Linked DNA regions of Homo sapiens: region 1 is linked to region 2. The links come from fine-mapping of genetic effects on plasma protein levels. Region 2 holds a variant in brackets. A gene starts in the other region. All regions are shown on their forward strands.

Evidence for each region. A credible set is the group of variants that fine-mapping cannot tell apart. PIP is the posterior inclusion probability: the model's chance that the variant is causal. Protein levels are from antibody-based Olink assays in UK Biobank. Linkage for the fine-mapping came from a reference panel and not from the study's own genotypes, which makes the PIPs less certain.
Region 1: LRCH4 starts here. The variant in region 2 is the best candidate, but not a certain one, in a credible set for the plasma level of the LRCH4 protein (UK Biobank, PIP 0.53).

What each region holds. Positions count from the first base shown.
Region 1 is chr7:100,583,502-100,599,307 of GRCh38, forward strand. It overlaps LRCH4 (leucine rich repeats and calponin homology domain containing 4), which reads right to left and starts at 2,628. Exons shown (of 18, transcript NM_002319.5): 1 at 2,380-2,628. The coding sequence starts at 2,599. FBXO24 (F-box protein 24) reads left to right here and starts at 2,827. Exons shown (of 10, transcript NM_033506.3): 1 at 2,827-3,163; 2 at 6,476-6,574; 3 at 6,673-6,856; 4 at 8,166-8,401; 5 at 9,282-9,516; 6 at 10,882-11,040; 7 at 11,601-11,722; 8 at 12,074-12,205. The coding sequence starts at 3,125. PCOLCE-AS1 (PCOLCE antisense RNA 1) reads right to left here. Exons shown (of 9, transcript NR_038910.1): 7 at 9,324-9,573; 8 at 6,729-6,830; 9 at 5,900-6,581. RefSeq lists enhancers at 103-791, 245-539, 512-671, 937-1,450, 1,451-1,964 and 1 more and silencers at 2,106-2,155, 2,196-2,625, 3,386-3,505.
Region 2 is chr9:270,166-278,165 of GRCh38, forward strand. DOCK8 (dedicator of cytokinesis 8) reads left to right here. Exons shown (of 48, transcript NM_203447.4): 2 at 1,462-1,564. Among named protein-coding and RNA genes, the nearest start is that of DOCK8-AS1, 58 kb to the left of the region's middle. The variant A/AG (reference allele first, on the strand shown) is at 4,503.

The sequences.
Region 1 (15,806 bases), not on the chromosome of region 2:
CAAGGGCCCTTCTCAGGGAAGGGCAGGCCAGCAAAAGCAAGCAGAGGAGAGAAGCCGGGTATATCCCCCAAGGAAATGAGTCTTGTGACAGGAAATGAAGTAGAAACAATCTGTCAGGTTCTGGCTCTGGTAGGCCCCGTGTTTACCAGGGTGGATGACAGCCTGATGCCCCGGGACCCCTTTCTCTTCCTCTCTGCCCAGCCCTGGTGCACAGACAGAAGCCCTGGCCTCAGAGATGACCGTTCTGGAGAGGGTGGGGGGATGGCATTTGCCCCTCCCAGCCTCGCCTCCACCTGCCCGCTTTCTCTGCAAATGTGTTTGTGTGTGTGCATGTGGACGAAGGGGGTGGAGACCGAGTTCTCAGAGTTCTGATGGGGTAGGCGGTGGCGGGGACAAAAGCTAGGAGCGGAAGGGAGCTCAGGCAGGAGGCAGGGCACTGGGGGCACAGGATGTGGTCTGGGAGAGAATGAGCTGCACTTCTCCTTTGCAAGATGGCCCCTCCCCGCCACCTCAGGATTCTTCCTACTATCACCCCAGGGAGCCTAGTCCAAGGGAGATCAGGGACCCAAGACTAGGCGACACGCAGCGAAGACACTCAGAAAGAGATGGGAGACGGGAGGGGAAGGCTCAAGGCAGTCCGGGCAGCAAGGCACTGATGCTTTTCGTCTGCTTGGAGGGCGAGGAGAGATGGAGGGCAGGGTATGGGCAACTGTATGTTTTTGTCACTTCCCCTTTCTGTCCCTGCTTGCGGAGAGGGGACAGAGGAGAGAATTCTGGACAAGAGGGACCCCACTTGGCCTAGAACCTGGGCCCTGTGTAGAGAGTGGGGCAGAGGAGGGTTCTTGGGAAGCTGGGATTTCCGACCCCCCCCCAAGCTCACAGGAGCACGGCTGCACCCTGAGCCGGAATGCTGGGGGAGGAGGGGGCCGGGGGCGGGAGCTGGGAGGGGCCGGGGAGCTCCGGGTAGTTTTCCCCAAGAGTCCACACAGGGAGAGACAGCCTAAGGAAGTAAAGAATAACATTTGGTCTTTGTCAAAAAACAACCAAGGGGGAGGGGAAGGGAACAGACAGTGAGTGTCACACAGCTGCTGAGGTCAATCTGGAGTGTGGGGTTAGGTGGGGGTGGGAGGGAACAGGGCTGTAAGGGGCAGGAATGGCTCCTGGAGCTCACTCATTCCCCATCTCAAGTGTTGCAGAGCAGGCGAGATCAGTGGGGAGGTTTCGACTGGTTCTCCCCAGAAGAGGGAAGAGGATGTGTGCCAGTGCCGGCCTGAGTGTTCCCAGGTGAGCAGGCACCTGCTTAGGGAGAAGTAAGCACTATCCTCCAGCTCTGGTCCCCCACCGTGCAGATGAGAGGAGGAAGAGGCCTGGGCTGGGGTGAGGCTTCGGGAATGCAGTCCTCCTCCCTGATCCTGATCCCCACCCCCAGCTGCCGGCCCAAGGTCATAGGCTGCCTCCTGAGTAGCTGAGGCTTGACTCACCTGTCACAGTTAAGTCCCCCACCCCCTACCATCCACAGACACCAGGGTGGAGGGTGCATGGTTGGACAGATCCTGCGGGTGGAGGCGTGGAAGGACAGTCTCTAGCTGGCCAGCACTCCCAGCTAGGAGATAAGATTTCCTTCCCTCCAGCAACGGCCTCAAGTCCCTCCCCCGGGGGAAAGCAGAAACTGAAATGGGAATTCTAAGATCCCTATGAGGTCACAGGCTCCACAGTGACCTCACAGGCTTAGGAAGGAGGAGGAGGAATCTCAGATAAGCCGGTTGGGGATAATAGGCGGAAGAGCTCAGGGAGAAAAGAGTGAGGGGAGGTAGAGATTTGTTTCTTTCCCATAGGCTGGAGAGCTGCGTGGACAGTGGAGAGGGCCAGGACCTTAGGGGGCGGGGTTGCGGCACAGAAAGCAGAAACCTCGGGCTTAGGGGCCAGTCACTGGGAAGGGGGTGCCCGGGGCTGCTCGGATCTCGGTGGGACGGGGGTTAAGAGGTGTAGATGAAGAGGGAGAGAAAGCAGTTATTAGAGGAGCTCGTGGGGACTGCTTCATAGACCGATTGGAGCTGAGGTTAAGAGATCATGTAAATAAGCCAACCAGGTGAGGGGCGGGACCATCCTACAGGTGCGCAGATATGCAAATAAAGAGAAAGGAGGAATCTCTCCCAACGCTCGGAGGCGCAGGGCGTTCTGTGCAAACGAGAAGCACGTTCATTGTCTAGGGGGTTCTCAAAGATGGGAGAGGATGGCTGCAGGTTTAGGGCAATCAGGAGGGGCAGCAACCCTGGCCGCCAGGTGAAGGGGCGGGCCCGACTCCCGGGCCGGGCGGGGCCCGGGGTGGGGCTATGCAAATGAGGGACCCGGTTGGGCCCGGGGCCCGGCTGCACTCACCAGCCTGGGTGATGTCTGACAGGTCGTAGCTACGGGCCGCGCCCCGGGGGAAGTGCTTCAAGCGCCGGTTAGACAGGTTCAGGGTCCCGGTGGCCACGGCCTCCTCTAGGGCCCGCTCTGCACTGCGTCTCCCCGGCAGACCTGGAGACCCGGGCACGGAGGTCGTGGCTGCCGCCTCCTCACCCCCGGCGGCGAGTGGAGCCGCTACGGCCGCCGCCATCCGCTCCCGGCGGCTCCCGCTGCCTGACTGACGGGACCGGCCGTCCCTCCTTCCCCCACCCCCTCCTTGGAGCCGCCGTAGTTGCCTCAAGGGGGAGGGAGCGGTGTCCGGGACCGGACGGACCAATCGTGGCCCCGAGACGCGTCAGAAGCGGCCAATCAGAACCCGTCAGTGGGGGTGGAGCTCCGGCGCCGGAGTCTGACGAGAGAAGGGAGGGGAACAAGGATAGAGCGCTCGCCAACGGCCGACGCTCCAGGCCGTCCCGCCCAGCGCAGCTGCACCCAATCACAATGCTCAGATCGGGAGGTGGAGCCAATCAGGTCCAACCAAGAGGAGGGGACACCGGCACTCCACTAGCAGGAAAACGGGCCGAGGGACCGCAAGCAGGGGGTGCCTAGTCCTCGTCCCCCAAAGACCAATCGTAAGCCAGATACAGGCGAGTGACTGTCAAGAAGGCCAATTAGAGCCTCCGAAGGGAATCTGGACCTGCCTCTTCTCTGAGGGACGGCTCTACCTACCAATAGCATGGGCGAGAAGGCGGTCCCTTTGCTAAGGAGGAGGCGGGTGAGCTAGAACTTTAAGACTGAGGTTAAGAATGAACGCGGAGCCCCTGGCCGGCCGGGAACGCAGTTCGCCGCTGCAGTGGCGAGTGCGAGCTGGACGTGTTAGGGGGCTAGCCGGCGTCCAGGGCTTGAGGGGATTCGGGCGACTGCTTGAGGCCAGTGCACTGGCGGTTGTCGCAGCTGAAGGGGCAGCGGGGGGACCTCCGACTGTGAAGCCTCTGGCAGGGGTCTCGGGACCCCCGGGCTGGGGGCGGGCGGGGGGCTTCCCAGAGCCTGGAGATGCCCAGCTCGAGGAGGGAGGGTGTAGGTGCAGCGTTGCACGGTCTGCCGTCTCACCCGAGGAGCTCCCCTGGACAGGAATGGAGAGGGGACCAGACCACGGGGTTTTAGAGGCTTAGAAAGGATCTCACCGCCTAGAACACGCCCTTGGTGCTACGAATGCAGAAACTGAGGCAGAGGGAAGTTGATGCGTTAGCAAGAGCGAACAGCAAGTTCCTGACAGCTGGCTTGCTCTAGAAACCAGGTCTCTGGATCCTCCACGCACAGCCCTTTCCCGCTCCCTCAGTTTTCACAGTGGATGTTTTCACTCCCTTCCTCTCTTCCTCCCTCCCTCCCTCTCCCTTCCGTTCCCTTCCTCTTTTTATTTTTTTATTTTTTGAGATGGAGTCTCGCTCAGTCGCCCAGGCTGGAGTGCAGTGGCGCGATCTCGGCTCACAGCAACCTCCACTGTCCGGGTTCAAGCAATTCTCCTGCCTCAGCCTCCCGAGTAGCTGGGACTACAGGCGCCCGCCACCACACCCGGCTAATTTTTTGTATTTTAGTAGAGACGGGGTTTCACCGTGTTGCCCAGGCTGGTCGCAAACTCAGGAGCTCAGGCAATATGCCCTCCTCGGCCTCCCAAAGTGCTGGCATTACAGGCGTGAGCCACCGCGCCCGGCCTTTTTTTTTTTTTTTTTAAGAAGGTCTGATTCTGTCGCCCAGGCTGGAGTGCAGTGGTGCAGTCATGGCTCACTGCAGCCTTGAATGCCTGGGCTCAAGTGATCCTCCTGCCTCAGCCTCCCAAGTAGCTGGGACCACGGGCGGCACCACTGCACCTGGCTAATTTATTTTCAATTTTTGTAGAGATGGGGTTTTGCTATGTTGCCCAGGCTGGTCTCAAACTTTTGACCTCAAGCGATCCTGCCTCTGCCTCCCAAAGTACTGGGATCACAGGCGTGAGCCACCGCACCCGGCCCACAGTGGACTTTTTCTTTCTTTTGAGACAGAGTCGCTCTGTTGCCCAGGCTGGAGTGCAGTGGCTTGATCGCAGCTCACTGCAGCCTCAACCTCCCACCTCAGCCTCCCGAGTAACTGGGACTACAAGCACGCACCACCATGCCAGCTAATTGTATTTTTTGTAGAGACAGGGTCCTACTATGTTGCCCAGGCTGATCTCAAACTCCTGGGCTCAAGCAATGCTCCCACCTCGGCCTCCCGAAGTGCTGGGATTATAAGCGTGAGCCACAAAGCCTGGCCCACAGTGGACTTTTTCTATTCACAACCTCTCGTTTGCCTCCTGGGGTGAAATGGAGTGGATAAAGGGGACCCAAATGCAAGAGGAATGGAAAATACCTTTCTGTCTACTTGGAGATCTTCCTTTCTAAGTGGCATGAGTCCCTAATGCAGTCCCCTCCCTATGTGGTAGGTTGCCCAGAAATAAGTCACTGAAGTTGCTTTCTCCTTAGTTCACATCTCAGAGGTTGATATTCCTGAGTAGTTGCTGAAGAATTAAAATTCCATCTCAGGCATCCCAGCCTAGCCATGGCTAGGCACCATACATAAGGGAATTTGGGTGGTCAGTCTGGTGCAGTCAATGAACGGATCTGTGACACTGTGTGGTGAGGGCTGGTGGTCTGGCAGGATGGGACTCCTTTGAGCCCCTGCAAGAGCCAGCCACTCCTTGGATTTATTGGTGTAGATCTGGCCTGAGTGGGACAGACACAACCCTGACCCCTGCTGTTTCTCCTGATAAATGTCACCCCACATAAGACAAAGCTAATATCAGAGACCCTGGGAGAAATCCTAAGCTTTCAGAGGAAATCCATCCCTTTCTCCCACCTTAATAGGTTGTCCTTTATACATGCAATGATGTTACTGTCCCTCAGGAAAGCAAAAGCAGTCTTCTTTTTTGTTTGTTTTTTTTGAAACTGGGTATCATTCTCGCCCGGGCTGGAGTGCAGTGGCACGATCATAGCTCACTGCTGCCTCAAACTGGGCTCAAGCAATCCTCCTGCCTCAGCCTCCTGTGTAGCTGGGACTACAGGGGTGCATCACCACGCCTGGGTAATTTTTAAGTTTTTTTTTTTTTTTAATAGACGCAGGGTCTATGTTGACCAGGCTGGTCTTGAAACCCATGGCCTCAAGCCATCCTTGCACCATGGCCACCCAAAAGTGCTGGGATTTCGGGCGTTAGCCACCGGCACCAGGCTGCAGTCTCCTTTTGGATGTGTTTTTTCACAAGTCTAAAGAGTTTGCTGAATCATTTGTGAGCTAAACGATTATTAGCACAGTCACCTCTCCATCTCACCTGTCAAACTGAGTTTATAGTTTTTTGAGTCTATACTCTTGAGCTACCAATCCCTAGAGGCCTTGGCCTGCTGAAATGTGAGGAATTCACTAGTGTTTCTCTACAGAGTTAGTGCTAAAAGGGCCTCAAATAGGAAAACTTCCTCCTGCTCCCTGAAATAAAGATGTCACCTACCAGTAATTCACACTTTATTTCTCCAGTAAAATGCATATCCCTTGAGCCATGTGATGGCTAGAACTGAGCTAGAACCCAGGAGCTGTCTAAGAGATGGGTCCTGGGCAAGATTAAAGGGAACAGGTCACAGTGGCCAAACAGTGAGGTCACAGAGAGGTTTGTTAGCCCCAGACTCCATGGGGGAGGGGCCTAGGAGGCAGAGGGGCCTCAGAGGTCCCCCAAGCCTAGGCTGGGGACATGGTGTGGGAAAGCCAGCAGGAACGGGGGGGCCAAGGGCCTAGGAGACAGGAGGGCAGGAGCAGGGAGGGGGCAATCAGGATGGTCAGGGGAAGCCAGAGACGGAAGCTGCAAAAATTCACCAGGCTGTGTGGACGGGAGGAGGGGCTCCGGGTGAGGGGGATTGGCCGCAGGAGATCGGGAGGAGTTATTTGGAGAAGTTAGGGATGGGTCTGGAGAGAGAGGGGAGGAAATAACTGTGCCCAGCTAGAGTCAGATGAGCCCCAAGGTAGGCGGAGAGAAGGGAAAAAAGGATGTGGGACCCTCATGGGACCCTATGCACCCCTTCTTGGGTAGGTGAAGAGAAGCTGCCCTTCTTGTGGCTCGGAGCTTGGGGTTGAAGAGAAGAGGGGGAAAGGAAATCCGATTTCCATCCAGTTGTTCCCCCCAGAGCTGGTGAGTCCTTGGGGAGGGGGATTGAGAATAATAGGATTGGGGGCCAGATCACCGAGGGGCCACCAAAGACTCCCCGCTTCTTCCCTCCTCCCTCCCAGGTGGAGCATATCATCTCATTCCTCCCAGTCAGAGACCTTGTTGCCCTCGGCCAGACCTGCCGCTACTTCCACGAAGTGTGCGATGGGGAAGGCGTGTGGAGACGCATCTGTCGCAGACTCAGTCCGCGCCTCCAAGATCAGGGTTCTGGAGTCCGGCCCTGGAAGAGAGCTGCCATTCTGAACTGTACACCTTCCCCAGAACCTCCCGTTCTCCTTGCCTCTGTCCCGCCTTAGCCTTCCTGCTCTCTAAAGTCCCCTGATGACCCCCACACTCCCAACAGTGCTTCCAGGGCCCCTTTCTCCGGAAGAAACGGGTCCAGTTCAAACATTCTCCCTTGAGTACTTCCTCCAAGTCTTCGGAATCCACCCACAGCCCCCGTTAGCGGCCTCCCTGCCAAGTCTCCCTCTGTACACAGACACTTCCCGCTTTTTCCCTAGAGGCATCCCTCACTCCCCAAACCTGGAGTTTTCCCTCCTCTAACCCAAGGCTTCTGAACTCACTGTTGATATTCTGGGCAAAATAATTCCTTGATGTGGGGAGCTGTCCTCTGCATGGTGGGATGTTTAAGCAGCAACCCTGGCCTCCACCCACCAGATGGCCAGCAGCATCCCCCTTAATTGTGACAACCAATGCCCTTGAAGGACAAAATCACCCCTAGCCTGAGAACCATGCCATAAACCCTCTTCCCCTCCAGGGATCCCCCAGGGTGTACTTCTTACACTCACTGGGAGATTAAAAGAGAAGGGGGACCCAGAAAACAGATCCAAAGCTAGGGGTGAGGGAGGATGACCGGCCTTCATCAATCATTCCTTTTCACTCCTGTTTCTGTCTCTTCTCTTTTCTTTCTTTTTCTTTGATTTTTTTTTTTTTTTTTTTTTTTTGAGACAGGGTCTTGCTCTGTCACCCAGGCTGGAGCACAGTGGTGCAATCTTGGCTCAATGCAACCTCCACCTCCCGGGTTCAAGTATTCTCGTGCCTCAGCCTCCTGAGTAGCTGGGATTACAGGCTCCCGCCACCACACCCGGATAATTTTTGTATTTTTAGTAGAGATGGGGTTTTGCCACGTTGCCCAGGCTGGTCTCAAACTCCTGGGCTCCCAAAGTGCTGGGATTACAGGCGTGCAAAAATTCACTGAGCTGTGAGGATGGGAGGAGGGGCTCAGGGTGAGGGGGGTGGATGCCGCACGCAGCCTCTGTGTCTTTATTCTTAGAGTTTTCCTCAACATCACTGATGCAAGGTTGCACCAAAGAACTGCTCACTAAGAAGCAAATGTTTGACCCTGGGCTGAGGTGGGGTGGAGACTAAAGTTCACATGTCGAGTATAATCTAAGCTTATTTTCCACATCTCCTTCATAAGGGGTCTGTTTGTTCCCCTGTCCTGGGGATGGGGAGGAACTACAAACCAGCGTGTCTAAGAAATCTACCCAAGCTCCAACTCATCTCCCTCGTGTCATCTCATCCCTTGAACCTTCCATCTCCTTCCTTCCTCCAGACACGAAGGGCCTGTATTTCCAGGCATTTGGAGGCCGCCGCCGATGTCTCAGCAAGAGCGTGGCCCCCTTGCTAGCCCACGGCTACCGCCGCTTCTTGCCCACCAAGGATCACGTCTTCATTCTTGACTACGTGGGGACCCTCTTCTTCCTCAAAAATGCCCTGGTCTCCACCCTCGGCCAGATGCAGTGGAAGCGGGCCTGTCGCTATGTTGTGTTGTGTCGTGGAGCCAAGGATGTGAGTAGCAGAACCCTGGCAGCTGAGAGCCCACCTGTATTAGTCCATTTTCACACTGCTATAAAGACGTACCAGAGGCCGGGTGCAGTGGCTTACACCTGTAATCCTAGCACTTTGGGAGGCTGAGGCAGGCGGATCAGCTGAGACCAGGAGTTCGAGACCAGCCTGGCCAAATGGCGAAACCCGTCTCTACTAAAAATACAAAAATTAGCTGGGTGTGGTGGTGGGTGCCTATAATTCCAGCTACTTGGGAGGCTGAGGCAGGAGAATTGCTTGAACTTGGGAGGCAGAGGCTGCAGTGAGCTGAGATCGCACCCTTGCACTCCAGCCTGGGCAACAAGAGGGAGACTCCGTCTCGAAAAAAAAAGACATACCTGAGACCGGGTAATTTATAAGGCAAAGAGGTTTAATTGACTCATAGTTCCACATGACTGGGGAGGCCTCAGGAAACTTACAATCATGGCAGAAGGGAAAGAGGCACGTCTTACATGGCAGCAGGCGAGAGCACACAAGCAAGAGCAGGGAAAACTGCCTTATAAATCCGTCAGACCTCGTGAGAACCCACTATCACGAAAACAACATGGGGGAAATTGCCCCCGTGAGCCAATCACCTCCCACTGGGTATTACAATTCGAGATGAGATTTGGGTGGGGGCACAGAGCCTAACCATATCACCACCTCTCTTTTGAGGACCCAGGCCCCCATCAGTCTTGAGGTGTCTTTCCTATGACTTCTGCCCTCCCACATAGGAACCTGAAATCAAGGGCTCATTTCCCAACTCTGGACCCAAGCATTTCACTTCCCACCCCAGGATCCAGCTGCCCCAGCCCCATCCCATTTTGAAACTCTAGATCCCAGACGCCCTCATCTTTTCCCCCAGTTTGCCTCGGACCCAAGGTGTGACACAGTTTACCGTAAATACCTCTACGTCTTGGCCACTCGGGAGCCGCAGGAAGTGGTGGGTACCACCAGCAGCCGGGCCTGTGACTGTGTTGAGGTCTATCTGCAGTCTAGTGGGCAGCGGGTCTTCAAGATGACATTCCACCACTCAATGACCTTCAAGCAGATCGTGCTGGTTGGTCAGGAGACCCAGCGGGCTCTACTGCTCCTCACAGGTGTGGCCCAAAGCAATGGCTTTTGCAAACTGTTTCCTGCAGATTCCTCAGACCCTGCTGCAGAGGAGGGGGAGGGAGGCCCCTCAGACTGGGTTCCATATGCCACCTTATCCTAGTCTCCATCTAAACAGCTCTGCCCTTCTCTGTCTCCTAGTCTAGGATTCTGCTTAATATTTTATATGAATAAAAGGCCCTGTCCAGGTGTGGTGGCTCACACCTGTAACCCCAGCACTTTGGGAGGCCGAGGTGAGCAGATCACCTGAGATCTGGAGTTTGAGACCAGCCTGGCCAACATGGCGAAACCCCATCTCTACTAAAAAATACAAAAATTAGGTCGGGTGCGGCGGCTCACACCTGTAATCCCAGTTTTTGGGAGGCCAAGGCGGGTGGATCACGAGGTCAAGAGATCGAGACCAACATGGTGAAACCCTGCCTGACTCTACTAAAAAAAAATACAAAAATTAGCCAAGCGTGGTGGCGCGTGCCTGTAGTCTAAGCTACCTGGGAGGCTGAGGCAGGAGAATCCCTTGAACCCAGGAGGCAGAGGTTGCAGTGAGCCGAGATCACGCCACTGCACTCCAGCCTGGTGACAGAGCGAGACTCCGTCTCAAAAAAAAAAAAAAAAAAAAATTAGCCGGACGTGGTGGCATGGACCTGTAGTCCCAGCTACTTGGGAGCCTGAGGCAGGAGAATCGCTTGAACCCAGGAGGTGGAGGTTTCAGTGAGCCGAGATTATGCCACTGCACTCCAGCCTGGGTGACAGAGTGAGACTCCATCTCCAAAAAAAAAAAAAAAAAAAAAAATCAGATGTCCCCAGCTTCCATGCCAACCACCTCACTATACTCCAAACTGCTCCCTACTTTCCCAATGTCCTTTATACTCAACCACATCCCCAGGCCTGAGACCCTTTAGGCTTTTTCTTAAAATATTTTTTTCTTTTTTGGAGCAAGGTAGAGATGGGGTCTTGCTATGTTGCCCAGGCTGGTCTCGAACTCCCTGCCTCAAGTGATCCTCCTGCCTTGGCCTCCCAAAGTGCTGGGATTACAGGTGTGAGCCACCACACTTGACCACCTCTAAACTTCTGAATGCCAGGCAGGGCCCTCAATCCCCAGACCTCTCACTCAAATCGGATTCTAACAAATCTGCTAGATTTTTCTCTCTGCTCATCTCTCATGCTGAAGTACTTCCCTGATTTATGGTGGGAACTGGAGTCTGGGGGACTTGGGGTCACTCTTCCCTTATTTCTTTCTCAGCCCCACTCTAGGGCAGTAAATGTGTCACCCATATGGCCTAGGGAGTCTCTTGGGATGTTTATGTGGATATTGGAGAATCCCCTCCCCAACTAATTGCTTCCCCTACCCCCAGAGGAAGGAAAGATCTACTCTTTGGTAGTGAATGAGACCCAGCTTGACCAGCCACGCTCCTACACGGTTCAGCTGGCCCTGAGGAAGGTGTCCCACTACCTGCCTCACCTGCGCGTGGCCTGCATGACTTCCAACCAGAGCAGCACCCTCTACGTCACAGGTATGGACCACCTCCCCCCGGCTCAAGCCCGCAGCCTTGGTTAGACCCTCTAAACATCAACACCCTTCACCCTTACTCCAGCTGCATGGTGAACCCCTGAGGGCATCCTAGTGAAAAGATGTGTTTAGGGCCGGCATGGTGACTCATGCCTGTAATCCCATCACTTTGGGAAACCGAGGCAGGTGAATCACCTGAGGTCAGGAGTTCAAGACCAGCCTGGCCAACATGGCGAAACCCCATCTCTACTAAAATACAAAAATTAGCTGGGTGTGATGGCAGGCGCCTGTAATCCCAGCTACACCAGAGGCCGAGACAGGAGAATCACTTGAACCAGGAGGTAGAGGTTGCAGTGAACTGAGATCGTGCCACTTCGCTCCAGCCTGGGTGACCGAGGGAGACTCGGTCTCAAAAGATGTGTTTTCAGTTCCCAGGCATCATAGTTGATGCATTCCTAGTGGGTATGAGACTCCTTGGATCTTGTAGCTTTCATCCCAGGTGGGGCCTTATCCCTAGGAAATGGGTGCCCAAAGCTGCTGAGCTGAGGGCTCCTGACCCCCCAGACCAGGGGGGAGTGTATTTTGAGGTGCATACCCCAGGGGTGTATCGCGATCTCTTTGGGACCCTTCAAGCCTTTGACCCCCTGGACCAGCAGATGCCGCTTGCTCTCTCACTGCCTGCCAAGGTAGGCTCCTGGAGGGACGGGGCAAACCAGAGGGGTGGCGCTGTAGGGATTGGAAGGTCTGAAGTATTATAGGAATCAGATTATTGATCCAGAGGGGCAGGGGATCCCCAGGGAGAGGTATGCCAAAAGAGATCAGCTGGGGGCTCGGTGCGGAGGGAGGCTGAGGAGGGAGTATCGCTTGAGCCCAGGAGCTCTAGACCAGCCTGGGCAACATAGTGAGATCCCATCTCTAAAATATATATATAGAAAGAGATCAGCTGGGGATGGCAGGTTAGTGGCTTGGAGACTCTGGAACTCAGAGTTCCTCTGGAGGGAATGGAATCCCTATCCCCTTTCTATCTTGCACGCTAGATCCTATTCTGTGCTCTTGGCTACAACCACCTTGGCCTGGTGGATGAATTTGGCCGAATCTTCATGCAAGGAAATAACAGATACGGGCAGCTAGGAACAGGGGACAAAATGGACCGAGGGGAACCCACACAGGTGAGACTATTTCCCAGCAACTCTCATCCCAACCCCTTTCCTCCAATTCCCTAACCCCCAGATCTGTCCACTTCTCCAGATTCCACAGAATCCAATTTCTGTTCCTTTGGGAAGTTAAGCCACTCAGTATGTAATGCCAGTGGTACTACCCCATGTCTTACCCAGGGTTGGCACTACGAGGTCCATTCTGTGCAGTGCACACTGTAAATGCAATAGGAATTTAGTGAAGGGGTAGGGTGGGTGACCTGGGCAGGCTAGAGACTTCTAGAAGAGGTAAGATGTGAGCAGGGGCCAGGTGCAGAGCCTCACGCCTGTAATCCCGACACTTTGGGAGGCCGAGGTGGACAGATCACTTGAGGTCAGGAGTTCTAGACCAGCCTGGGCAACATGGTGAAACCCCGTCTCTACCAAAAATATAAAAAATTAGCTGGCTGTGGTGGCACATGCCTGCAATCCCAGCTACTCAGGAGGTTGAGGCAGGAGATTCTCTTGAACCTGGGAGGCTGAGGTTGCAGTGAGCTGAGATCGTGCCACCCTACTCCAGCCTGGGCCACAGAGCGAGACTCCGTCTCAAAGAAAAAGAAAAAAGATGTGAGCAGGGCATCGTGGGTTACATAAGACTTAGGTAGGGATAGAGAAGGCATTCTGTGTGATGAGGAGGGGGATAGGCACGAAACTTGCACATACCTGGGACAGTGACAAGACGGGTCTCACTAAAGCACAGAAGGCATCTTGGGAATCACTGAGGTATGAGGTGGTACAGGTGGGCACAAGCTTAGAGAGGTGTAGATTTGGGGAAGAGTCACTGCAGGTTCTGGAATAGGAGAAGGCAACCCCCAAGAGGTGACTGAGAATGTGTCAGGAGCCTTGTGCAGAGGAGGCCAAGGAGGGGAGCCCGCCAGGAGGCTGTTGAGTGATGACAGCACTTGAGACAAGCGCCTGGTGCTGCAGCGAGAATGGGAAGGAATGGATACAGGAGCTATTTGGGAAGAAAATGAATAGGGCCTCAAAACTGATTAGATGTAGAAGAGAGGGGTATAAGACAGAGGTGGCTCTGGAAGAAAGATATCTCACACCTGTAATCCCAGCACTTTGGGAGACCAAGGTGGGTGGATCACGTGAGCCCAGGAGCATGAGATCAGCCTGGACAACATGGTGAAACCCTGTCTCTAGAAAAAATAAAAAATTAGCCAGGTGTGGTGGTGGGTGCTTTTAGTCCCAGCTACTCGGGAGTCTGAGGCACGAGAATTGCTTGAGCCTGGGAGGCAGAGGTTGCGGTGAGCCGAGATCGTGCCACAACATTCCAGCCTGGGCAACGGAGAGAGACTCTGTCTCAAAACAAAACAAAACAAAAACCACACTCAATTGGAAACGTCTAGCTGGCAATTAGATTCTACCTGGGAACATGGTTGAACAAACAGAAGTAGAGACTGAAAAGCAACTCTGAGAAGTAGGCCCTGTGGTAGACAGGGGATGAAGAGGTGCCTCTAAGACAGGCCGTGCACCCCTCTAACACTGTCCCAGAAGCCACATGAGAAGGAAGTTCCAAATGGGGTGGGTGGTAGGGTTAATTGATGGTGTGACAATGTAAGATACATTTACTACTGACATGGAAAAGATAGTCATGCCATATTTTTAGGTGAAAAAGACTTTTATGAAATGGTTTACATAGTACCATTTATTTTTATTTTTATTTTTATTTTATTTTCAAGATAGAGTCTTGCTCTGTCTCCCAGGCTGGAGTGCAATGGCGCGATCTCGGCTCACTGCAACCTCTGCCTCCCAGGTTCAAGTGATTCTCCTGCCTCAGCCTGCCAAGATGGGATTACAGCGCCCACCACCATGCCCGGCTAATTTTTGTATTTTTAGTAGAGACGGAGTTTTACCATGTTGGCCAGGCTGGTCTCAAACTCCTGACCTCAGGTGATCTGCACACCTTGGCCTCCCAAAGTGCTGGGATTACAGGTGTGAGCCACCGCACCCAGCCTCTTTTTATTTTTATTATTACTTTTTTGAGACATGGTCTCCACTGCTTCCCAAGCTGGAGTGCAGTGACACAATCGTAGCTTGCTGCAGCTTTCAACTCCAGGGCTCAAGAGATCCTCCCGCCTCAACCTCCCAAGCAGCTAGGACTACAGGAATGCGCCACTACGCCCAGATAAGTTTTTGTTTTTTTTGTTTTTTTTGTTTTTTTTTTTTTTAGAGACAGGGTCTTGCTATGTTGCCCAAGCTTATATTGAACTCATGGCTTTAAGCAATCCTCCCACCTCAGACTCCTAAAGTGCTGGGATTACAGGTGTGAGCCACCACACCTGGCCCCATCCCATTTTTTGTTTAAAAATACACAACTTGCCCATCATGGTGGCTGACATCTGTAATCCCAACTACTCAGGAGGCTGAGACAGGAGGATTGCTTGAGGCCAGGAGTTGAAGGCTGCAGTGAGCTGTGATCACCACTGCACTCCAGCCTGGGTGACACTGAGACCCTATCTCTAAAAAATAAAAAATATACAATTTATGTGTATTTGTTTGTTTAGCCAACAGTGAAGAATATCTAGCAAGATGTTAATAGTAGATGGTGGGATTTCCAATGATTTTAAAATTAATTTTTTGCTTGCCAATGTTTCATAATTTTTCTAGAATGACCATAAATTACTTATCAGTGTCTTCAGAATTAAAGCGCTAACAGGCTCAGGAGAATGAGGGGGCAGAAGACGCCCTGGGATTTAGCCACTGAGAGGCCAAGTGCCTCTAGAGAGAGCATGTCAGTAATGTAATAGAGAGAAAAGCGAGATCCCAGGGAGGTGCTGGATAGACTGGCTGTGGGAAGGAACAGTAATGTGGTCAGCCTCAGATTGGTCATGTAACCAACTCTGCTGCTTAAGAGAGAGAGGCAGGAAGCGGCAGGAAGCAAGTAGAAGCTTTTTTTTCAAAAACAGGGTGGCCATTTTGGAAAAGAATTATGTGATAAGTTGAAAATGCTAGGCTAAGCATTTCAACTAGCTCACACCTGTAATCCTAGCACTTTGGGAGGCCAAGGCAGGTGGATTGCCTGAGCCCAGGAGTTCGGGACCAGCCTGGGCAACATGGTGAAACCCCGTCTCTACTAAAATACAAAAGAAATTAGCCAGGTGTGGCGGTGTGCACCCATAGTCCCAGCTACTCGGGAGGCTGAGGAAGGAGAATTGCTTGAACTGGAGAGGCGGAGGTTGCAGTGAACTGAAATCGTGCCACTGCACTTCAGCTTGGGCAACAGAGCGAGACTCCGTCTCTACAAAAAAAAAAAAAATGCTAGAGGCTGAGGTGGGAGGCCCGGAGTTCGAGATCACCATGAGCAACATAGTGAGACACTATCTCTATAGAAAATTTAAAAATTTAAAATTTAAAAATTATAGGCACATGCCGGGTGTGGTGGCACATGCCTGTATTCCCAACTACTCAGGAGGCTGAGGCAGAAGAATGGCTTGAGCCCAGGAGGTCAAGGCTGCAGTGAGCTATGATTGCACCACTGCATTTCAGCCTGGGCAACAGAATGAGACCCCATCTCTAAAAAAAGAAAAGAGAAAATAAAAATGCTAGAGTGGAGGCTGGGCTCAGTGGT
Region 2 (8,000 bases):
ATACTTTTAAAAAATTAAATAAAGAAAACGCTGTAGAAAATTAAGGAGCAAAATGTATGCTTGCAGCTACAGCTTCCTCTGGGGTTTCACACTTCCTTGCCTCATCATGTAACGGGCCACCACTAGGATGAAGGTGCTCCAGTCTTATTCTTCCAATCTTCTCTCCATTTGTCATTCAGAATCCTGGGAAAGAGAGACACTTGTCCTGCCGTGAGTTATGTGCCCACTCTTTTGATTTGTGTTTCTGCCTAGACAGTGCACAGCATGAGTGTTGGCATCTTGAAAGGAAACTGGGGTGCTCCTGAGGGAGAATAGATGCCAAAGTTGGGACAAGAGCCCAGTTTCCTGCCTTTCTAGGTGTAACTCATTGCCAAGGTCGGGAGCAAAGCAAACCATGTAGGAAACCTCATCATGCTGGGTAGTTAATAAGTATGCCCTAGCACACGTTTTCACAGAGAAAACATAATACGCTTCATTTGTAATATTTAAGTATTACATCTAAAGTTACAATGTTTAAAAATTTATATATACCCTTGTTGGATACAAAGCATGTTTAAAATATGTGACCTCATTTGATCCTCAGTAATCTCTGTTAGTTTCTAATTATATTCAGTAGTGGTATTGGTATTGTATGTTTTGGCCTCATTGTGGTTTAAATACACTTTTGTGAACTAGCCTGAGAATCCAACCACCAACACAATGATGTAATGAGAAAACGTGCTCTGAGTTCCAAACAAATGGCTAACAGATAAGTGCTCAGAAGTCAACCTTTTTGTAAGCTGGGGTATCACTGGCCAGCAGTCACATGCCAGCAGGTGTGAGTAGACAGTGGGGAACAATTTCCTCTCATGTGTATGGCTCCCTAAAGTGTTGGCTGAGCATTGTCCACATGGGTGATGCAAAGGATCACTGAACTAGGAGCAGTTGGGAAAAAATACAATCATTGGGAATTCCTGTAGCATCGAAGGTGCCTACAGGGAGGTAGAAGTATTCATACAACAGTTCTCTGGTGTTCTCTGTTGTAGCAACCAGTCAGCCAAAAGGGTTCAGCTGCTTGAAATGAGAATGGCTGGATCAAAATGGCAGCTCAGGATTTAAAGGATTCTAGTCAGATACCAGACATCCTCACATAGAGAAAACTCTGAATGGCTGGGGGAGAAGGAGTCAAATGCCCTGGATCTTTTTCTTGGGCCTCAAAGTCCTCCTTCTGTCATCATCCTTCCAGTATTGGGCAGGACCTGACTGCAGGCATCATGGCCTCTGTGAACTTCTCAAGGGTATGTATTATCTGACAAAAACTACGATGTCCACTAACAGGCCACTGAAAAGGTATCTTAGTCAGTTCTGCTCATTGCCCAGCCAAGGCCTACGTTTTATAACATGATATCAAAGATTGCATCTAAAATTGTGATGATTTCCTAAAATAATCATTTCATTTAGATTTTTCTATTTTAATCCAAGGTATTCTTCAGCGGAAATAAGGAAACAGTTTACTCTCCCACCAAACCTTGGCCAGTACCATCGACAGAGCATAAGTACCTCTGGCTTCCCCTCTCTTCAACTAGTAAGTATGAGTTCCAGGTTTACTTAGCGATTGGTCAAGTGCAAAAGTGCCCAGGGTATGTGTTTGCCTCCTGTTCCTTAGATCTTCCTACCATCACCTCACATTCTCCAGTCACCAGATCCTAACTCTGTGACTGTGTCTGGACATCAGACAATATCCCTCTCTCTCTCTGCCAACCGGTACTTAGGGTACATAATAGAACCTCTGGGAGCTGTGGTTTTGATGTCTCTAGACTAGGTGGGCTTCCAGGTGACTCAGTCTCATCCAAATTATGGTTCATATTTGGGGGAGAAGGGCTAGCCCAAAAACTTACCACCATTTGTAGTATGCATTTTTTTGGAAAAGCATATTCCAAAATCTGAAATGCCAAGTTACAGACCTCCTTTTTGTAAAATAATTTTCTTGCTAGTATAATTTACATATAATAAAATTCACACATTTTAGGTGTACAATTTGGTGAACTTGGGCAACTTAGAGTCACTTAACCTTTCCTCAGTCAAGATATAGAACACTTCTTTTATCCTAAAGCGTTCCCCAGCGCGCTTTTACAATCTCCTCTCCCCAGGCCACACCCTCCAACTCACGCAATCTCTGACTCACTTCTGTCACCATAATTTTGCTCTATCTGGAGCTTCATATCCTGTTACAGTATGTACAAACCTTCTTTTTTTGAGACAGGGTGTCAGTCTGTCACCCAGCCTGGAGTACAGAGGTGTGATCTCAGCTCACTGCAACCTCAACCTCCCAGGATCAGATGATTCTCCTCCCACCTCATCCTCCCAAGTAGCCGGGACTACAGGCGCATGCCACCACACCTGGCTAATTTTTGTACTTTTTGTAGAGACAGGGGTCTCGCTATGTTGCCCAGGCTGGTCTTGAACTCCTGGGCTCAAGCGATCCTCCTGCCTCAGCCTCCCAAAGTGCTGGGATTACAGTGAGCCACTGCACCTGGCCCTAAACCTTCATTTTTAAAACACATTTCCTCTTAAATTGAAGATTGCCTACATTTTTATATCAATGCCAATTGTTGAGTGTGCCTATATGTGTTATATTATTTGAGCACTAAATGCCAGATGTGTGCCAAGTGAGATAAATCTGACAAATGAGATGGTTTGTAAAACCAGCAGTGAATATTCACTTCCTCTGTGAGAGAGCTCCAGCCCTCCTGTACTCACTTCCTCACACAGCACAGCAGCACTCTTGCTGGTTCTGCTGCTTATCTTGAAGAGGTTAGGTTACTTTTTGTTTCTACTTATTACTTCGAAACCACTTCTGCCTTAGAAATTTTGTAACCTTCCGCTCAGTTTCCGGTAACCGCCATTTTGTCTCCTGTAACAATTTACGCGCCGTGTAACTGTGAATCTTTCAAAGGTATGTTTTACTGGAGTGATTTCTGGTTATTTCAGAAGGATAATTTGTGTGTTGCGTCATTAATGAAATAGTAGTACGAAAAACCTATAGCATCTTTTACTGCAGGAGGTAACTTTCCATGCCATTTTTTCAGAAAATCTACTTATGACTTCAGTGGCTTGCTAGACTGGCCTTTTTATTTGTACTTTTCCTGTGTTTCAGAATTGCAGAGTATAATAAAGGCATGTCAAGTGCATATTGTGTCCATTTTCAGGTATATTAGATAAGCTTTACACCAAGATAAATTAGATATGCTTATTGGTTTAATTTGTGCTAATATATATTTAATTGAAAAATCAAAAAAATTTTTTTAAATTGACTGAAGTTGTATTCCAAAACATGCAAAATTTAGTTTAAAATAGATTGGATACACTTTTAAATTTTAAACAAGGTAGAGGGTTTAGTGCTTTGCTTTTTTAAAAAGTAAATGAAGGCTGCAGCTTTCTGCAGTAGTTGTCTTGGGAAGTAGTGTGGACATCACTCCTAAGAGACGTTAAGGAAGTTTAGCTAACAGGCTTTAACCCTTTCTCTCCATACCAGCTTTTACTCTTTTTTTTTTTTTTTTGAGATGGAGTTTAGCTCTTGTCACGCAGGCTGGAGTGCAATGGCACCATCTCGGCTCATCGCAACCTCTGCCTCCTAGTTCAAGCAATTCTCCTGTAGTTCAAGCAATTCTCCTGCCTCAGCCTCCCGAGTAGCTGGGATTACAGGCATGCACCATCACATCTGGCTAATTTTGTATTTTGAGTAGAGACGGGGTTTCTCCATGTTGGTAGGGCTGGTCTCTAACTCCTGACCTCAGGTGATCCGCCCGCCTAGGCCTCCCAAAGTGCTGGGATTACGAGCATGAGCCACCATGCCCGGCCACCAGCTTTTACTTTAATGCCACAGCCTTAAATTTTCTTTCAGGAGAAATTATTTTATGTAAAGTTACAAAGGAAAATAATGCTTAATATCTGTAAGCATTCGTTTGGTAAGTTTGCTGCCTCCTCAGTAAGTTTTGATGAAAGTGAATTTTGATGAATTACTACCTTAGCCGGGTAGTGACGTTAACATGTGGCTTAGCTGTCCATTTTCTAAGATATCAAGAAACCAGCAACAATAAGTAAAATTGTTAAATTATGCAAGAATCACATGTTCCTACCTGTCATCATTTAGTCTTGGTTCTATTTGCATGTGAATATCCTTTAGAATATATTACTCCCAGTTATTCCGCTTTACTTTTCTGAATCTCTTTTCCCATCTCTTGACTTCAACTTCAGTATATGGCTCTTGTTCCTTCTACCTGGAGAACGGAGGCATGTGGAAGCCCAGAGGATTGAATTCTTTTTTTTTTCTTTTCTTTCTTTTCTTTTTTTTTTTTTAGATGAATAGTCTGCTTAGGAAATCCATCTCCATAATGTTTACCTGGTATCGTGTTGTAATGTCAGAATGAAGTGGCTGTTCTTCCCCTTGAGTCATCGTCCCGAATGAAGGTTCCCCAAAAGAAATCATCAACTTATGTGGTGATTTCCTTTTACCTTTAAAA[A/AG]AAAATTTCTTTTCATGGAAAGATAATGGAACATGTCGGTAAGATTCATTTCTAGGAAGGCAAAGGAGTAGTTTATCATCTAAAGACTCTCAACCTAAAGCTGTTTTAGAAAACTTTCCTTAAAATGAGAAGCCGTAGGTTTTCGTTGCATTATTTTGGCTAATTGAAAAATAAGACCAAGTGCGTTCTGACCTTCGTTTCTCTTACCTTTATTTTTACAACCACCATTTCAATGGCCCACTTGCTGATACAAATGATTGTTTAATTTTAAAAAGCATTTAATTGAAGTCAAGTTATTTAGAACCTAATCATTTACACGTCTTTGTTGTTGCTGCTGTTTTGCAAGAGTGAAGAGCTTGGAGTCAGGTGAATCTGGGATGAGGTACAGTTGTCATTTATTAGTCATGTAATTTGTGACAAGCCACTTAATCTCTCTGAAGACTTCAGTTTCTTCATTTGTAAAATTGGCATAATAATGCTGTCCCTAGTAGGGAATATAGAATTATATAATGGGTCCTTTGTATATATTGGCTAGTATTGCTCTCTTACGATTTGGCACTATGGAGACACTGTGGGAGATTAAAAGAAGATGATGAATAAAAGGTGACTTCAGCTCTGAAGGGCTTTATGATCCATTTGGGAGAACAGGTAATGTAGAATATACTGGCTTCAAAAGTGGCAGGTGTTTAGAAGAGAAAAGGATACATGATGTGATAGGAGGCAAAGGCTTGATTGAGAAGGCTGAGAAGACTTAGAGTAAGGGTTCTCAGCCCTGACTGGACATTAAAATTATCTAGGGACAATTCAATCAGAATTCCTGGGGGTGGGGACCAAGCATCAGTATTTTAAAGTTCCCTGGGGACTTTAACTTGAAGCCCAGGTTGAGAATCATTTAAACAGCTCTGTTATTTATTTATTTAAAATTTTAATGTATTTTTTGAGATGGAGTCTCGCTCTGTCACCCAGGCTGGAGTGCAGTGGCGCAATCTTGGCTCACTGCAACTCCTGCCTCCCAGGTCCAAGCTATTCTCCTGCCTCAGCCTCCCCAGTAGCTAGGAATACAGGCGTGCACCACCACAACTGGCTAATTTTTGTACTTTTAGTAGAGACAGGGTTTCACCATGTTGGCCAGGCTGGTCACAAACTCCTGACCTCAAGTGATCCACCCACCTCGGCCTCCCAAAGTGCTGGGATTACAGGCATGAGCCACTGGGCCCGGCCTAGTTTTACTTTTTTTTTTTGTAATGGAATTTCCCTCTGTCACCCAGGCTGGAGTGCAGTGATGTGATTTCTGCTCTCTGCAACCTCTGCCTCCTGCGTTCAAGTGATTCTCCTGACTTAGCATCCTGAGTAGCTGGGATTACAGGCAGCTGCCGCCATGTCTGGCTAATTTTTGTATTTTTAGTAAAGACGGGGTTTCGCCATGTTGGCCAGGCTGGTCTTGAACTTCTGACCTCAGGTGATCCGCCCGCCTCGGCCTCCCAAAGTGCTGGGATTACAGGCTTGAGCCACTGCGCTCGGCCCATTTAAAAAAACTTTAAAGGTAGACGTATTCCAAATGGGGGGAATATATAAAGAAAGGTAACACTTATTTTGCCCTGTGTGCTTTGAATTTCAGAAGGTGTAGTAAGCAAAGACCACTTACTAACCCTACAGATATATCCTTAGAAAATACAGTGGTTTCTGTCATAAATCTGATAAATCAGATGAGAGGAAGGGTGTATGTTTGATGTTGATTTTTCTTTTTGTTTTATTGGGGTTTTTAAAAACTATAAATATCAGGTCTGATGACTATGTGTATAAACATTTTCTAAGTAGATAAAATATTTTCAAATTTTGCATTTTTTAGTATGAAGGGGATCCATCATTTGAAGTTGGTTTTCTAGATGTGATGATAAACTTGTCCCAGGTCTATTTGACACTCCTACCAAAATCCTTTGTGACCAGGGCTAGAAGGCAGCTGTGGCTAGTAAATAACCCTGTGTGTAGACTCACTTATTGGCTTTGGCATTCTCTATTGCCACAGCTGTGTGAATAGATTAACCAGAGACCCTCTGGTGCCAGCCACCTATTCAGGCAAACAAGTCTATAATCAGTACCTCTGTTAAAATGAAACTGTAATATACTATTGTCTTTTCATTTATTTATTTATTTATTTAGAGACAGGGCCTTGCTCTGTCGCCCAGGCTGGAGTGCAGTGGTACAATCTTGGCTCACTACAACCTCCGCCTCCCAGGCTCAAGCGATTCTCCTGCCTCAGCCTCCCAAGTAACTGGGACCACAGGCGCACCATTGCGCCTGGCTAATTTTTGTATTTTTTTTGTAGAGACGGAGTTTCTCCATGTTGTCCAGGCTGGTCTTGAACTCCTGAGCTTCAGTGATCTGCCTGCCTTGGCCTCCCAAAGTGCTGGGATTACAGGTATGAGTCATTACACCCGGCCTATTTTCTGATTGTTCAAAGTAGAAGCCAGGCACAATGGCTCATGGCTGTATGTAATCCCAACAATTTGGGAGGCAGAGGCAGGAGGATAGCTTGAAGCCAAGAGTTCGAGGCCAGCCTAGGCAACATAGTGAGAACTCATCTCTACAACAAAGTTAAAAAGAAAAATTAGCCAGGCATGGTGGCACATGCCTTTAGTCCCAGCTACTTGCGAGGCTGAGGCAGAAGGATCACTTGAACTCAGGAGTTGGAGGCTGCAGTGAGCCATGATTGAGCCACAGTACTCTAGCCTGGGCAACAGAGTGAGACCCTGTCTCAGAAAAGAAAAGAGAAGAGAGGAGAAGAGAAAGAGAGAAGAGAAGAGAAGAGAAGAGAAGAGAAGACATACAAAAGAAGAGTAACATACAAGAGAAGAGTTAGGAGACCCTGTCTCAGAGGAAAGGAGGGGAGGGGAGGCGAGAGGACAAGAGAAGAAAGAGTTAGGATCTATGCCCTAAGGAAGTAAGGAGGATTTGAGACTGTGTAGGTGGTTAATAACCTTAAGCTACATATTTTATGGAGGGAAAAATCCTATTTTTAAAAGTGAGAATAGAACAATTTTGAAGTGAAATGGAATGAATTAGCTGGACCATAACGGCTCTGACTGAAGAAAAGGATGTAAAAAGCCACATCCTGGATATGTACCAAACACCATGGTTACATGGCATGTTTGTATATGTAACATTTATTTAAAAAAAAAGTCTCATAGCTTAGAAGGCATTTATTTTTGTTATGTGTATAGGCTTCTGTGCAATAAAGCAGCCTTTTTTATTTTACAGCTCATGATGACTTAAATGGTTAATTGCCTGATAAATATGGTCCTCTTTTATTCTTCTGATTCTGTTGTTCTTTTGCACTTCATCTTTCAAGGGGTTGGGCTATTCTTAGGTTTCACTGATTGCACTGGAAGGGACATGACGGAAAATGAAGATCTCAAGATAATTTTCTTGCAAATTCACAATGGAAGATAAAAGGAAAGAGTGGCAGGCATTCTGCACACAGAGCAGACGTTTCTTTAT